Linked DNA regions of Homo sapiens: region 1 is linked to region 2. A link means that fine-mapping ties the variant in region 2 to the expression of a gene that starts in the linked region. Tissue or cell type: lung. Region 2 holds a variant in brackets; the other region holds the start of a gene. All regions are shown on one strand. Distances are between the middles of the regions.

The links. PIP is the estimated chance that this variant, and not a neighbour inherited with it, causes the effect.
Region 1: MASP1 starts here. The variant in region 2 is fine-mapped to the expression of MASP1 in lung (TOPMed, PIP above 0.99). The same link has a PIP of 0.9 or more in skin, sun-exposed skin and thyroid.

The regions. Positions count from the first base shown.
Region 1 is chr3:187,287,417-187,295,416 of GRCh38, forward strand. It overlaps MASP1 (MBL associated serine protease 1), which reads right to left and starts at 4,321. Exons shown (of 11, transcript NM_139125.4): 1 at 4,212-4,321. The coding sequence starts at 4,216. LOC101929130 (a long non-coding RNA gene) reads left to right here and starts at 3,856. Exons shown (of 2, transcript NR_135551.1): 1 at 3,856-4,120.
Region 2 is chr3:187,260,127-187,268,126 of GRCh38, forward strand. MASP1 (MBL associated serine protease 1) reads right to left here. Exons shown (of 11, transcript NM_139125.4): 3 at 2,417-2,594; 4 at 615-746. Among named protein-coding and RNA genes, the nearest start is that of MASP1, 28 kb to the right of the region's middle. The variant G/A (reference allele first, on the strand shown) is at 4,294.

The DNA of each region.
Region 1 (8,000 bases), 27 kb after region 2:
TCCACAAGCCACTGCTCCCTGCACATTTCTCTATTATTGTGGGTATCACATTGCACTACGTTAGACACACCCTTTGGAGTGAAATGTACTTGGATTTAAGTCCCAATTCTTTCACTTACTGACTGTGAAAACTTGGGCAACTAGTCTCCCTGAGCCCCAGTTTCCTCAGAAGTAAAATGGAGATTATAATATCTAATTCATAAGGCTCCTATGAGCACTAAAGGTGATGTATATAAAGGTCCCAGTACAGAGTCTGATATATAACAGATTATAAATGAATGAATCCATGAAAGTGGGGCCTGAGTCTTAGATAGCCTAAAAAGTCAATGCTGGGAAACCATACCAGCATCTTCAGATTAACAATGATATATTTGCTAATCAGGACGTTGTTTCTCTCCAATACCCAGTCTGCCCATGTATTCAGATGCATATATCTGTGTAATGCATACATTTGAGTTTTTGGGTATGTAAACAGAGCAAGTTAACTACATACATAGATTATGTAGCTATGTCATGTTAATATTTACATAAAGTGTAAATAGGTAAGTACAAAATGTCTGAAAGGATATACACCAAGGTATTGACAGTAGTTATCTCTGAAATGGGAATATAAGTATTTCCATTTTTGTGCATATAAAATGTTTACATTTGTCAAGAAGGACCATGTACTATTTTTTCAATAAAAAGAAAATACATTTATTTAATTTTTTTCAAGGTCCCTACAATAGCAATATGTGAGATTCTATTAAGAAAACAAAATGTCTTAATCCCATAGCCAATGTCAATATTTTCTTAAACCAATCTGTGGAAGGAGGGCCTCAGAGGCAGAAGGAAGGGAAGGCATATGTCCAAGTTAACCTGTGAATTAGTTGGAAAGCTGAGTCAAAAAACCAGGTGGCAGGGCCCAGGCATCCCATTTTCAAGTGAGGAAATGAACCAGTGTTAACAGGGCTGGGAGTTCAGGTTCAGCCCTGCTGAGGAGGGGAGGGCACTGGCCCTGGGTCAAAAGAGCTAGATTCAGCTCCAGCTTTGACTTTATTTATCCTTTCCATTTTAGGAGGTCATGGGAGGTCTTGTTTCCTCATCCATTAAGTAGTAATAATAACGACTTCCCACAGCACTGCTATCAGCGTAAAGGAGGATGGGGAAGTATTTTGTTAACTGTCCAGCCCTAGCCAAACATTAGTTATAATTATTCCATCCTGCCAGTTCCCAAAAAGCAAGAGTCAGGAATGAGCTTTGGCTCCTAAACCGGACTTCCCTATAATAGCGACACCCAAATTATGCAAGGCCGAAAGGTCAACTTCCTCCATGACTGCTTTTTCCAGACCACATCGAGGAGACACTGAGCCTCCTGAGGCCGGTTCTGTCAAGGACTGGCAGCAGACAGCCCTGTGTAGCCCAGAAGCCCGGTGCCATGTGTGGTAGGCAACTGGTCAGCGTGGGAGGAAGGCCCAGGAAGCTTTCCCTTCTACTTTGTTTGCATCTCAAAACGGTTTCAAACATATGAAACAAATATCTCCCTTCATGTAATGGGCTTGAGCATATGCTTGCCTGCTTGCGTTAGGGGCTGTAAATTGAAGAATATAAGTGGCAGCTTTCATTCCTCGTCACACTCTCTGAATGTTTTTGGCTTCTTGTATACGAGGCACCGGCTGTATAGTTCCCAACACCTGCTATCTATCCTCCGGCTAATCAAAAAGTTTAGCTACATTGCAGAAATGTCAAAAGTAATATATAGAGCTGAGATTTCAGAGGCCCCCCGTAGGAACAGGCTAGCAGGACTCTGTAAAAATGCCTGCATATATCTATGATTGCGGCATGAACGGCACTTGCTATCTTTTCCATACACTGTCCGTACACGCCCCTTGTTTCAACCCACTCCACACCAAGACTCCATTTTTGAATTGAAGAGTTGGAAGGGACTGCATGGATCCTTTACAGAGCACCCTAATTTGACAGACGATGAAAAGGATACCCCAAGAGATGTCACATCATGCTCAATACCATATGGTGAATTAACTTCAACAGAAGAAGGGAATAAAAAGAGCTCACAGAAGAAGCTGGGTCCATGCCCATATCATGCCCAGGCATCTGGCCAAAGCAATTAATCCTGTGAAAAATAATTGAAAAACCCATGGCTTTACGTAAAAAATTTAAAAATATTAATGCCAAAGTCCCTCCTCAGGAGGTTCTGGTTTAATTGCTCTGGGGTGAGGCCTGAGCACTGGCATGTTTCAAGGCAGCACAGATCATTCCGACGTACAGTCAGAATTATGAGCCGTCAGTTTAGAATAATACACTTGGCTGAAAGTCTAGTGGAATATAGTAGAAAAAATCCTGAACTTGGAGCCCGAAGACCCAAATTTGAATCTGGACCTTTTCATGATCATCAGTGTGGTTTGGGCAAGTTGCTTAACTGCTTTTATACCCACTACTTATCCATAAATCCTTACTTCATCCAGAATCTGAAACCCCCATGAGACAGTGCTCTTGAAAGTGCTCTGCAAACACTGAAATACTGTATCCATGTGAGACAAGACCTGCTGGAGACTTTTCTAGCAGAGCACCTTTCTCGTAGTTGCTTGGCTATTCAAAAATTGAATTCAATTCAACAAATAGGTATTGAATGGCTGGTAGGAAATAGACATTATGCTAGGTGCTGGCCATACAAAGATGAAGACATAGATCATGTAACTTAAGGAGTGCTGAGACTTGTAAGGGGAGGTGGACATTTAAACAAGGGGATACTACAAGGACAATAAGAGATGCAGCTTCAAGGGACAGAAACAGAACAAAGGACAAAGGAGGGGATGCTCACTCTGGAATATGGTGGTCAGGAGAGAGAAAGAGATATTTGTGCCAGCTTGAACAATCAGGTCTTCTAGGTGGAAAATAAAGAAGAAGGTTGCTCCAGGTTGAGGGATGAGCATATGCAAAGATACAGAATTGTTACTCAGCCAAGTAGTTTGATATGGGCTGGGGCACTGAATGGTAGGGTGGGATTCAGACCAGATCATTGACAGATAAATGAGATTATCATTCAATGTAGATTGACATAAATCACTTTTTTTTGGAGAAAGAAAAATGATGTTTAATGGCAGGTTTAAAATTACTATGGCTTTAAGAAGAACAGAATTATTGCACTCACTTTTTAAGGACCTGGTTATCTCTCTGAACCACAGGTAATCGGAGTTCAAAGAGTTAACATAGTCTGAAGCCTCTCATTGGTCTCAGGTCCAGAAAAGTTGCTAGGTTACTTTGCAGAAGAGAAACAAATAAAAACACTTTCCCAAGTGAAAAGAAAATTAATAGTAAAAGATGTGTTTAGGGACTTACACATCTGCAGAGCATTGTGTGTGTGTGTGTGTGTGTGTGTGTGTGTAACAGCATTAACACTTAACTAATAAAAATAACTAGGGTGGTTGGGTTTTCAGACTTGCAGGATAGAACTTGTATGAAAGGTCTGGTAAGGAGTGTCAAGTATAATGAGGAATAAGAAAGGTTAAAGAGTTTAAAACCAATTAGAATTTGAAGTTCTTGATTTCAGAACTCTAAAATCCTTTTTTTTTTTTTAAGTATGATATCTCTTTAAGAGCCATTTGGTGTACTTCATAGCCTGATTCATGCCACCAGCTGCCTCTGATTTCAATGAGAAATGCAGAAAATTTATAGGGAACTGTAAAATGGGGACAGATTTTTAGTTTTCTAAATTGAGGTTTAACTGGCAAACTTGTAAAGGTTGAAGAAACCACAGAGCCAAGCTATGGGAAGCTGGTTTCTTTTCTGGTCAGAAGGAATGAACACACAAACACATATCTAACTCACAAAGTGCTGGAAGAGAGAAAGCAATGCTCTTTCCAGAGGAGGAACACGGAAAAATCAGCCTTGTGGGTGAACAGGAGGAGAGTCACATTCGCCAGCAGGCAGCACCCTGTGCAGGCAGTGGGAGAAATCTGAGCTTCAGCAGCGTCCGGAGCAGGATTTGCACGAAGTCTCCCGTTTCAAGTTTTATGTCTCCTGGAGTCCTGGGGAAGGCACCCAGCCCACCCACAGCTCCCTTCTCAGAGCCCTAAGAATTGATGAGAAAGCCCCTCACTACCACATGCAGGACACGCAGGTGAGTCTGTCAGTGACAAGGTCAGACCTTCCCTGCTATTTGACACTGGTCCCCAAAAGGGAACCGTGCCCTCTCCTCCCCTGGCACGTACCTCATTTTCCTGCCTTGGGTGCTCCCGGCTGCCCGGCCTTGGTCCTCCCAGCTTGACTTGCCTGTGAGCTCGTGCCCGGTGTGGTGTCCGTGATGCCTTATCTTTGTTCTGAGGTCCCTGTGTGTCTCTGGAATTGGCTGGCATTCTCCATTCAGGTCACGCCTTCCCCTGCCTGCAACAGATCCCCTCTCCCCCTCTCTCCCTCTGGCTTTTCCTCTCTCCTCTCTCTCTCCTTTGACTTGCTCTTGCACTCCCAGGAACCTGACAACAAAATCTGTCTTCCTACCGAAAAGATCTGCTCCTTCCCTTCCCTCCTTTATCCTGTGTGGCTGACTTCAGCCCTTGAGAGAAAATAACTGAGGGGCTCAAGCAGGTATTTGTATCACTCTGTGTGTGTGTGTGTGTGTGTGTGTGTGTGTGTAGAGAGAGAGAGAGAGAGAGAGTGAAAGGGGACAAAGTCTAATTTCTCTTTAGTCTTTTTTGCCAGATGACTATAATTTTCTGCTTTTCTTCAGGACACCCATGAAAGAAAAGCAATTAAATAGAAACAACCAACTAAGAAGGCAATTCTAGCACCTACACTAGAAGAAAAAAAAAAGGTCTAAATCCCAGAGCGTCTGTCTGCAAATAACTACAGGTTTCCTTGTGAGCAGAGCCCCAAATAACTACAGGTTTTCTCGTGATCAGAGTCACACACAACGACAGGTTTTCCTGTGAACAGAGCCACGGGCCCGGAACTGGGGAAGCACCAAGTCCTGAAGTTGGCTGGTTGTTCCTCCCCATGAGCAATACCTGTGGCACTGTTTACTTGCTCGGAGTGTGTGCGGCTCTACTCCAGCCCAGAAAGGGCCCATCGCAGCAAGAAATCTCACCTCCCCAGGGGTGTAGAAAGACCTGGGCCTGTATATATGTCTATACCCATGGCTTCCGGAGAAATCAACACTAGATCTAAGATGAGCTGAATAATAAGAAAATTACCCCCTCCACAACAACAACAACCAACACTGAATAGGGAGAGGTGTATCTGGGTGTAAAAGTTAAGTTTGACTGTGCACCTTTTCTGTGTTAGACACAGTACTAGTCATTAACATCATCTCAAGTTACTTTTGCAAACTGGTGAAAGTGCTGCTGTTATACTCATTTTACAAGTGAGGACACTAAGGCTCAGAGAGAATATGCCACTTGCCAAGATCATCCAGTTATTTATGACTCCCCACTGCCACTAGCACTAGAAGCTAACAGCTATTGAGTGCTACGTGTCAGGCACTGCTCTAAGCACTTAATATATGAATTCTTTTCAGTCATCTTTATATGTTGTATACATGGCTGGCAATATTCTCATTTTTCAGAGGAAATTGCCCAGAGAGGTTAAGTAACTTTCCCAAGTTCACACAGCTAGAAAGTAATAGAGGCAGAATTTGAAGTGTTAGCCACTGTATTACACTGCTACTCATTAACATTTTATAATGCATATGGAATTTCAAATGCACACACACAGACGGCATTCATAGAGAAACTCAATCTGAGTCATTTTGAAAAGAAGATTAGACTCAGAGTTTAGCTGTAATCTTTCCTTTCTACCCAAGACAGCTGTGTACTTTGGGCACAATACTTAAGGTATCTGATTCTGTGTCTTCATTTGGAAAATGGGAGTTACTATGAGGCTTAAATAAGACTGTGCTTGTAGAAGTGTCCAGGGGAGTACCAGAGAGAGGGCTGCCAGCCACACTCACCAAAGCGGCAGACACATGCACTGTCTACCCTCAGATAACGTTCCTTTGGCACGTTCTGGGGAACAGTGGCTTGACTCTCACTGTACTTCTTACTCCATTTTCTCTCCAGTTTCTCTAATTTTCACACTTTTGAATGCCAGCCTTGCCAAGCTTGGCATTATCAAGAGGCTGTGGTTGATAAAGCAGGTACAAGTATATGAGATGGGAGGATATGTTTGAACTCAGGCACTGTTTTAGCAAAATGTGTTCTGTCTCAGTCAGCACAGGAAAAAAAGCTTTTAACATTCCCGTTAAGAAGACTCACAGGCTCCGCACACATTAAATAACTCTCACAAAACAACATTTTAATGATTTACGTGTAAATGAATCAGAAACACATGGACGACATTTCTCTTGGAATACACAAGGGTTTTAAAACTGAAGGAGAAAGAGCTTGGCAAAATGCACACTGTGCTGGGAAGAGGGCCCCTGCCCAGTAAAGACATTCCCTCAATTCATGCTGCCACGGAGTTTGCCCTCTCCTAATTTAGGGCATATACTGGGAACTGCAGTCATTTGTTCTGGGTACAGAGGGAAGAGCTTGGGCGAGAAAGCCATCAGCTTCTCCTTGGAAAGTGTCACAGAGCAATTAGGCCTCCTGGAATAATTTTCTAGCCATGTTTCTTCAAGGCTGCCAATGTTCAATGGAAAGCATTCGAGATGTGTTCTAAGCCAAAGTTCTGCCAATATATAGCAGATCTGATATGTGCGCTTCCCTGGGAGTTAGCCAAGGCTCAGAGGAAATCTGCATAAAAACAGGAACTACGTGGCCCAGGAATGATCTGCATGTGATTCAGGACAGTTTTCTACTTGGTTACACTACATATTGTCTGATGCTTTTGATGAATCTCCCTGAAGTGTCACTAAGAGATCATGGGTCATCAGGGGTGGGAGGAATGGAAGGGACATTAGGCTGGAAACAGAACTGGGCTCAGTGACTATAGGCCAGCTTGCATGTGACCTTGGGTAAGTCACTTACTTTCTCAGGGGTGGGGGTTGAGGGGTGGAGGGGTGGGGCATCAGTGTGTTCAATTATGAAATCAGGGGGTGGGACTCAGTTGAGATCATAGATATCAACATGTGGATATGAAGACTATGAAATGATGTCGTTGGGAGGGGGTTAGGTAGTTTGCTAGACCTAAAAGATTGTCAAGGAGTCCAAAATAGCTCTAATAATCTTGACATTGGCTTTTTCTGTGCTCATAATATTACTGATACTAAGAATTTAATCACAGATATTCAGAAAAAGTAATATTTAAAAAGGTTCAACTAGTTTTTTGAGTTTGGCAAAAGCGATTAAAAAATGCATACAAGGAACTGACATCATTTAGAATCATGAAAGCGTAGAATGACTGAGGTGGGCTCAGCACCCGCGCACTATAGTCCTGTAGTCCGGGAAAGGGATCAGAGAGCTGCCTACTAAGGGTAAATGCGGCAATATTCCTACCACTGGAAGAGGTTTTGGTTTACATGTTCTACCAAAGTATTTATTTTATGCAACTTTTGAGCTAGAGCTTCTGGAATTCAATGAATGGGTTAGAAAACGTAAAGAATTTGGGCAATGACTTTTTGTTGGTAAGGGCTGAAATCCAGGCTTCCTACAGAATATTTGAGAAACTGATAAATAGCTCCAAAGATGGCAGCTTAGAATGAAAATCTGGGTTCTTCAGCACATTGACTGACAGCATGCCGAAAGTCCTGGCTTCTGAGTCTATCAACAGAATAATGGGGAAAATATTTTTAAAAAATGACAATCTTTGAGCTTCATCCCAGGAGATTCAAACCCAATGAATCTGTGGGTAAGTCTCCTGAATCTGTAATTTGAAAATCTCCCCTGGCATGATTTTGCCACTTTTGGTACAAATAACATAATGATACATTTTATAATTGATGGCACCTTTGATTTGATAAGATGTCATTTGTATATGCCAGATACTTTTATATATATTATTGCATATAGTATTCACATCTTTTTTTACAAGTAAAGACATTGAGGTTCAGAGAAACTAAGCCTGCC
Region 2 (8,000 bases):
CCCATTACCCCACTAGCCCAAGAGCTCCTCCTAGAAAGTGGCTAAACCCTTCCATTTCTCCATCCCTCCCTAAGCACGAGACTATAGCATAGTAGGTACGTTGATGATAGATGAAAACAAAGATAGATAGAAGGAATGGGAAGTTTTCTGGCTGTTTCTGTTTGCCTCTTTCCTCTCTCACTTCTTTGCTTTGGACTGAGGTCTCTCTATTGTAGAGGAACTTAGGGGCCATGGAAAAGAAGAGAAAAGGAGTTGCTGGGTAAAGCATAATTCGTGGCTCAAAGAGAAGGAACTGGGAAACCCAAGTTTTCCCCTAACTTGACCAGACCAATTGCCTACAATAGGATAGGAGACAGCAACCTGTATAGTGAAAAATGCTGCCCCAGAAAGAAAGATGGCCAAATAGTCTAGAGCTTCTCTCCTTTGGGAACCCAAGATCAGGTTTCCAGGCTGGGTGGGCATTTCTGCATCTTCATCCATGTGGTGTCTGAGGTGCATCATTGACTTCATTTTTACTTGTTCCTATTGCATATCTGTCTTTCTCTGAGCCTCATCTAATGTTATTGAGGATGTGGCCTATAAGGGCAATGCATACAATCATTGGTAGGCTCTACCTCGGCAGGTCCTGTTGTCTGTGTGGAGGATGTAGCCGAAGCGGCAGGAGCAGTAGTAGCCGCCAATGTAGTTGTGGCAGTAGTGGTCACAGGACAGCTCCTCGTCCTCCCTCTCCTTGCACTCGTCCACATCTGTAGGGCAGGTAAAGCCTCTCCATCAATACATGCATGATGATGAAGACTACAGCCAACATTTATAGAGCACTTGATATGGGCCACTCACTATGTTAGGAGATTCATGCGTTCTCTCATTTAATCCTCTCATACAGCCCAGAGGTAGCCATTATCTTCACTTTACAGACTAGGAAACTGGAACTCAGAGAGGTTAGGCAACTTACCCAAGGTCACAAAAAGCCAAGTTCAAACCCAGGTAACTTGACTTCTGGTGGGACCACTATCCTCTAACAGTTATAATAATAACTGTGTGTGGGACAACAACCTCAGGAAGAATTACACATTTGTTACTATGCATTCTGTTACTAGTCACATTCTATGGAGGATGAAATGGCGACATAGAGGCATTAACAAACTTAGAATCACACAGATAATAAGTGGCAGACCCAGGATTTAAATACAGACAAGCTGGGTACAGAGCTTGTGCTCTTAACTTCTACCTCATGCTACCTCTTTCTTTCTTTCTGCCCCTAATGTGGGTCAAGCCCTGTCCTAGGCATTTGAATGTACATTTCCCCAAAAGGGATAAACCAATGGCCAACAAGCACATGAAAAGATGTTCAACATTGCTAGTCATTAAGGGAATGCAGTTTAAACCACAATGAGGTACCACTACATACTCACCAGAGTGATTAAAATTTTTAAAAATTGACAACATCTAATGTTGGTTTAGATGTGGAGCAGCCAGAACTCTCATACATTGGTGGACAGATAAAAAATGTTACATTTGCTTTGGAAAAGGTCTGGCAATGTCTCATAAAGCTAAACGTATACCTATCCTATGACTCAGCAATTCTTCTCTTACATATTTACTCAATAGAATTGAAAACATATGTTTGCAAGAAGACTTGCACAAGAAGGTTCATAAAAACTTTGTTAGTGAGAGCTAAAAAATGGGGAGATTCCAAGTAGCCGTCAATAAGAGAATGAGTAAACATACTTTAGTATATTCATACAATGGAAAATTACTCTGCCAGGAAAAGGAGCAAATTACTGATGCATGCGACACATGAATTAACTTCAAAAACATTATGCTGAGTAAAAGAATCCTCACCCCCAAAATGTATTCTGTATGTTTTCATTTAAATGAAGTTTTAGAAGAGGCAAGAACTAATCTACAGCAGAAAAAAAATCAAAACAGTTGTTTCCTCTAAGGGAAGTGGGAGCAGAGATTGACTGGCAGGGACACAAAGGAACCCCCTGGGCTGGTGGTAAAGTTCAGTGTCTTGTTAGAGGTTTGGGTTACACACAAATACAGATTTTTCAAAATTCAACAAATGTATACATGAGATATGTATATTCCATTTTATGTCAATTTTACACAAAAAGAAAAAATGCTGTGAACAAATATGAAACTCTAGCAAAATAATATGCATGCTGAATTATTTAGGAAGAAGTATACTGATGTCTGCAATTTACGTTAAAACACTTTGTAAAAGATGAATTGCTGGATGGATAGAGGGTAGATAGATGGATAGATACGTGATAGAGCAAATGCATTAAGACATTAATGGTAAAATCTATGTGGTGCACACACAGATTTCCATCGTAAAGGAGAGGTCACAAGGCAGTTTTCATCTTCGGAGAGAGAGAGAGAGACCTGAGGATGAGTCACTTCTCCAACTTACCCACAGCCATGTAGTGGGCATCAAAGCCTGTGAAACGCTCCTCATTGGAGAAATCTGACCGGAAAGTGATGGACATGAAGGAGCCAGGGGAGAGGACCACCTCCTGGCCGGGAGTCTGCTCTGTGTCTGTGGTCTCCCTGCCACAGAAGGTTGCCAGCACCTGGTCCTCAGTTTCTACCTTTGAGGTCAAAGAGAAAGGGAACAAGATGAGCAGTTTCCCAGCTAGGCTTCTTTCCTTATCTTTAGAAAGAAAAAGGAAGGGGCCACCCAAGAGTAGGCTAGTCAGCCTGAGAAACCCAAAGAAAGGAGGTTAAGGATTCTTGAGAAAAGACGCATTACAAGTTAATTCAATGTGGACATCTGATCAGTTTCATTCGTCTTATTTAGTTCCATTAGAAGTAGCTTGATATTTGTTGTTGCTGTCAATAACCAAGCAGCTTATTTATTAAAAATAACTCAATATGAAAGTTTTAAAAAGTTAGATAACCTCGCAGACAGATTCTCTGCACAACAGGAACTTACCACATTTCCAAAGAATGGAAACTGTATACACAATATAAGTCATTCATTGAGTATCCAGTGTGTGCCTACTGCCGAGCAAAGCATGAGATGGAGGTGATGAGAGATAGACACAGTGCTGTGCACACAATAGCAGTGTTGAGATTGAGGAACACAGACACAGGCAGGTATTACACAGTGTGACAAATGCTTTCACACAAGCAGAAGCACTGCATATGCACTCAAAGCAGGCAAACAATCCACATTAGAATATAAGCTACAGGAGAGAAGGACTTTATTTTCTTTATAGATGTGTCTTCAGTGCATGGAACAGGACCTGGCACATAATAGTTATCCAATAAACATTTGTTTACAAGAACTGAAAGTACAAGCCCCATTCTGTGAACAGTGAGTAGCCAGGGAGTCTGTGGGGATTGTAGGAGGAGATGTACTTGGAAGGATACATGGAAAGAAAATTATGGTTGACCTTGAATGCCATTAATTCTGTGAGTAAGTGGAAGACACTGAAAACTTTTAAGCAGGAAAGTCATGTAATGAAAACTAATGTTTAATAGGCAGTCTTAATACAGAAACTATTTATTGGAATCACCCAAAAATAGTTTGAGTGTGTATCTCTGTGTGTACATGTTTGTGTTAAGACTTAGATGCAAAAAACATGCCTGTTTGCTAAAAGAATTCCCTTCTTTGGAAGAGCCAGAGGCCCTGTGCGAATTCAGAGATCCAAGCAGAGATCCTAAACTGGTGGCTTAAAGCTGATTTTATGTGAGACAGGAGTTTGGGAAGCTTCGTATGATAGCTAGTTGGTATATTTATTTGAGTATAAATTCTTGACGTATCTATTCGATTATCTTATACCTAATCCAATTCTTTTAAGTTGTATTTGTGTTTGCAACCTCTGGACCAAATTTTAGCCAAGATGCATGAAAAAAATCTCTTACCAAGAATGATTCCTGCTGCCTTTCAAAGTCATTAGAGAAAAGTTCTCAAAGGCGGCTATCTCTAGTAGCTTCTAATGAATTCATTGTTTTGTTCGTTAGCTTAGCATGTCAGAAATATCTTGACATTTGACACTCCTGTTTTGAAACTAATGGTTTATTTATTTAAAATAAGTGGGAGTTTCAAAGAAAAACAATTTGCCCTGGCAACAAAACGCAAGTACAATTAATCACTAACTTTGGGAATTGAAGTGTAAACAGAAGATGAGATCATGGCTTTGCTATTTATTCCTCTTCTCTGCAGATACCAGCCGAACTCACACCAGTCTTGTTACTATAGAATGTGCCTATCTGCACACAGCTGAAATGTCACTTCCTTGAACCTCCCAGCTGCTGTGTTATTTTATCTGACTCAGTTTTCCA[G/A]ATAGCCAAAGCTTTACCTAACTATAACTAAAAATTTTCTTTTTGGTGTAACACTTAAAAAAAAAAAAGTACTTTAAAGAAGTACCCACTTTCTCAAGTGAAACATGCTAACCCTTTCTTGGTGATCCAGGGACATTGTTATGAATGTCAACCATTGTGATACTATATTAAAGTGATAATCTTGGGGATATTGAGTTGTGTAATGTCGCTTGACCTGGCGTTAAACATTGCCGGACTATAAAGCCTTGAACTTCTGAAGTCTTCTTTATGTCATGTTTTATTTCCTGTCTTTTTATCAGCCTATTCACTGTACTTTTCTGTCTGCTTATTTTTAATATGTTGTGAATTAGAAACCAGTTAACTGCTTTTGCTAGAACTTAATAAAAAAAAGCTAAATAGATTTAGAATGAGGGCCTGGGAAAGGGATTCTTCTGTGAGTAACTGCATGAACTAGAGTACACCATCTTGGTGACCTCTGCTTTGGAGTAATACGATATACAGGAACCTGGCAGTTGGAGGTCCTGGGTCCTGTTCCTGACACTGCCGTATTCTGCATTTTGGGCCATCTCCTTTCTAGCTCTCAGTTATCCACTTGTAAAAACAGGGGTTTGGACTAGCTGAGCTCTAGATTCCTTTCCAATTCCAGACATAGCAGTCATCATAGTCTAACACAGTTCTAACAAATCATCATAGTCATATATTATATAAACCAACCAGAAGATGGTAAGCAGGAGTTTTAACATATGCAGGATTACTGCTTGCGGATGAACTTGAATTTGTTAATAATGAATAGTCATGCCTTGGGCATTAATAGTTCCAGCTACACAGGCTTCTTTCTGGAACTTGGTATCCCCAGTGCCTCTTGGGTTCTGCAGTGACTGGGACATGAACATTTTCAAGTGAACACACTGGTCATTTGGATTAGGGAGATACTACTGAGGGTCTGTGATAAATGACCTCCCTCCTTGTAACGTCTGGGCTGAAGGACCTTTTCATAATGGCAGATAAATCAGATAAATGGTTATCACCTGCAGAGCCACAGTATTCCAGAGAACAGGAAGCATGCCCCAGCTGAGGCCCATGGGAAAATTTGAGCCATACATCCTTTTAGAAGCAGAGAAGAGAAGGCCAGTAGCCTGGGGCCCTGGGAATTCAGCCTGCAGCTCAGAATAGAGTCCTGGAATATCAGAGCTGGGCGGGACCTTTAAGAGCTATTTCTATCTGCCTCCTTCTATAGGAAACAGAGGTCAAGAGAGGGGAAGTGACTTGCTCAAGGCTGGAGAGATAACATGAACATTTTCTGATATCAGTTTTGCTTTGGGAACTATTCTGAGATGAGAGAAAAGAACCCACCAACCCAGAGAGTACATGACTAAAGACACAGACACTTGGCCAAACAATTTTCCTGGCTCAAAGGCCTCTTGAAACCTTATCTTGGGTGCATGGACTGTCTCTTAGAGAGGATGTGGCTCAGTGACAGCTCCAGTCATAACCTAAACAGAGGGGTCACTGGTCCCGGTTAATATTTGCATCCTGTGCTGTGGAATATGGAGTTCTATAAAGATCATTTACCTCTGAGTATAGGCAGATTGAGACCTAGCTTCTATTTGGACTGTCCCCTCTCAGAGGTCATCATATCAACATGATGGAGGGACCTTATCAAGTGAAGACAAAACATTCATAATAATGGAGACCCATGTGGCTGCGAATAATAAACTCTTCATTTTTCTATTTCTTCTTGTGGGCGACTATGTCCTTAGAGACTATTGTTATTTAGGACACCAACATGTGGCTGTATGTCCTCAATTTGTTTTCTTTCAACTCAATTCACCAAATATGTGTGTACTAAGTTCTGTCTACACTTTAATGTGAAGGGTGCCAAAAATTATTTATTTGTTATACGAGCTCAATAAGCAAGTTCCCTGCCTCTAGGAATGTGACACTTGGTAGAAGAATAAGATAAGTACTCAAAGGTATATGTGTTGGGGTATTCTCAGGGTATCGTAAATGCAATCAAAGATGGGCTGCCCTGGGGGTTTAAGGAATGGAAAAGATTGAATCCAGCTGAGGGAAATCAGAAAACATTTAGGAAGAAGAGAATAATCTTTGAGCTGGAGACTGAAACGTGAATAGAATGTAGGCAGGTAGAAATCATAGATGGAGGGTAGGGGGTGGGTAGAGTATGTAGGGAGAGGAAATAGTGAAGGCCTGGGGTATTCAAATCTCAGCTGCTCCTCCCCACTACCCATTACCTGGCGTCAGAAAGGGGCTCTGTTAAGGACAGAGAGCTGGGAAGGCACATCTGATAAGGAGAAGCCAAGAGGCTTTGGTTTCTATGAGTTTTCTACCTCAGCAGAAACAGCACAAACCTGCTAGGCAAAACTATGGCAGGGCAGCTGGGATTGGCCAAATTTCTGTGGAAGGACAGCTACTCTATGGAAGAACAGCTACTCTATGGGAAGACAGCTACTCTATGGAAGAACAGCTACTCTAGGGAAGGACAGCTACTCTCGCTATGTATGGCTGCTCTCTGCATGTCCATAAATTCATTACATCAGCTAAACAAATGCATTGACAGCTACCAACTGGCTCCTCAAAGCAATGTATAGAGAAAGCAGCCCAGGGGGGATTGCTCTCCTTTTATAGATGAGGAAATTGAAGCCCAGATAATTTGAACAAATTGGGCAAGGTGACTGGTGAATCTAGTGAGTGGTGAATGAATCTCATGATAAATGAATCTAGTGAGTGGTGGATCCAGGTCCACAATTGCAGCATCCTGATTCCCTAGCCAGTGCTCCTCAAGACATTAGGCAAATAAACAAAGGCTGTCTTATAACCCAAATGCCTCATGACTTTGTTTGTCAATGTTCCCGAGCTATCTCCTGGAGCCTTTCTGAAATCTGCTCAGGGCCCTTGAGGAGCATTGCAGACTTAATTTAGGCAGACATTTAGGGAGTATGCTGGATTACCCTGTTGCCAGTTTAGTTAATCTGGGAGCTACGTTCCCCAGACTTTCTTTCCCTGTATAGTTCTAGATTAGAGTTGGCCAAAAGAGGAATTTGTGCAAGTTTGAAAGGCAATAGTCATTACTCACTGAAGGCTGTTTTGTAATCACATACAGAGAAAGAAATGTGTAGATGTGTCCAACACATCCTCACTTGCTCTCACGTTCCTCTACTCTGCACCCGGCTCTTTATAACTACTGGCTCTGATGACCAACAGTGGCCCATGCCTATCATCAGATACTTTCAGGTGAAACCACAGAGGTGGTAGCTGCTTACAGCCAACAGCTTCTCAGAGACCCTTTTCCATGAGCCTCCCCTTCATTGTTGCACTTTGGCCCCTTAGGTAGAATTGACTTATCAGATTCCCTTGCAGATGCCAATATTTCCACCCATGCCAGGGCTTTAAGAGAACTGCTTGGTGACCTTTTCTCTAATCCTTTAAATCCCCATTTCCAACTTTTACTTGCCCAGCTCCTTCTATAATTACGAGTTCTAATACCCATAAATATTCATTATCTCACATTACTCATAAAGACTTTGCTTTCCTGATTGAAGTCTGACTGAAATAGTTATTGATACCAGAAGTAGAATGCTGCAGTAACAAAAAACTAGAATATGTGGCTTCAGTTTTAGGATTGGCTAGCAAGTAAATTCTAGAAAAACAGTGAAGAGACTGCTATAGGAGTCTAAAACAGACCACTT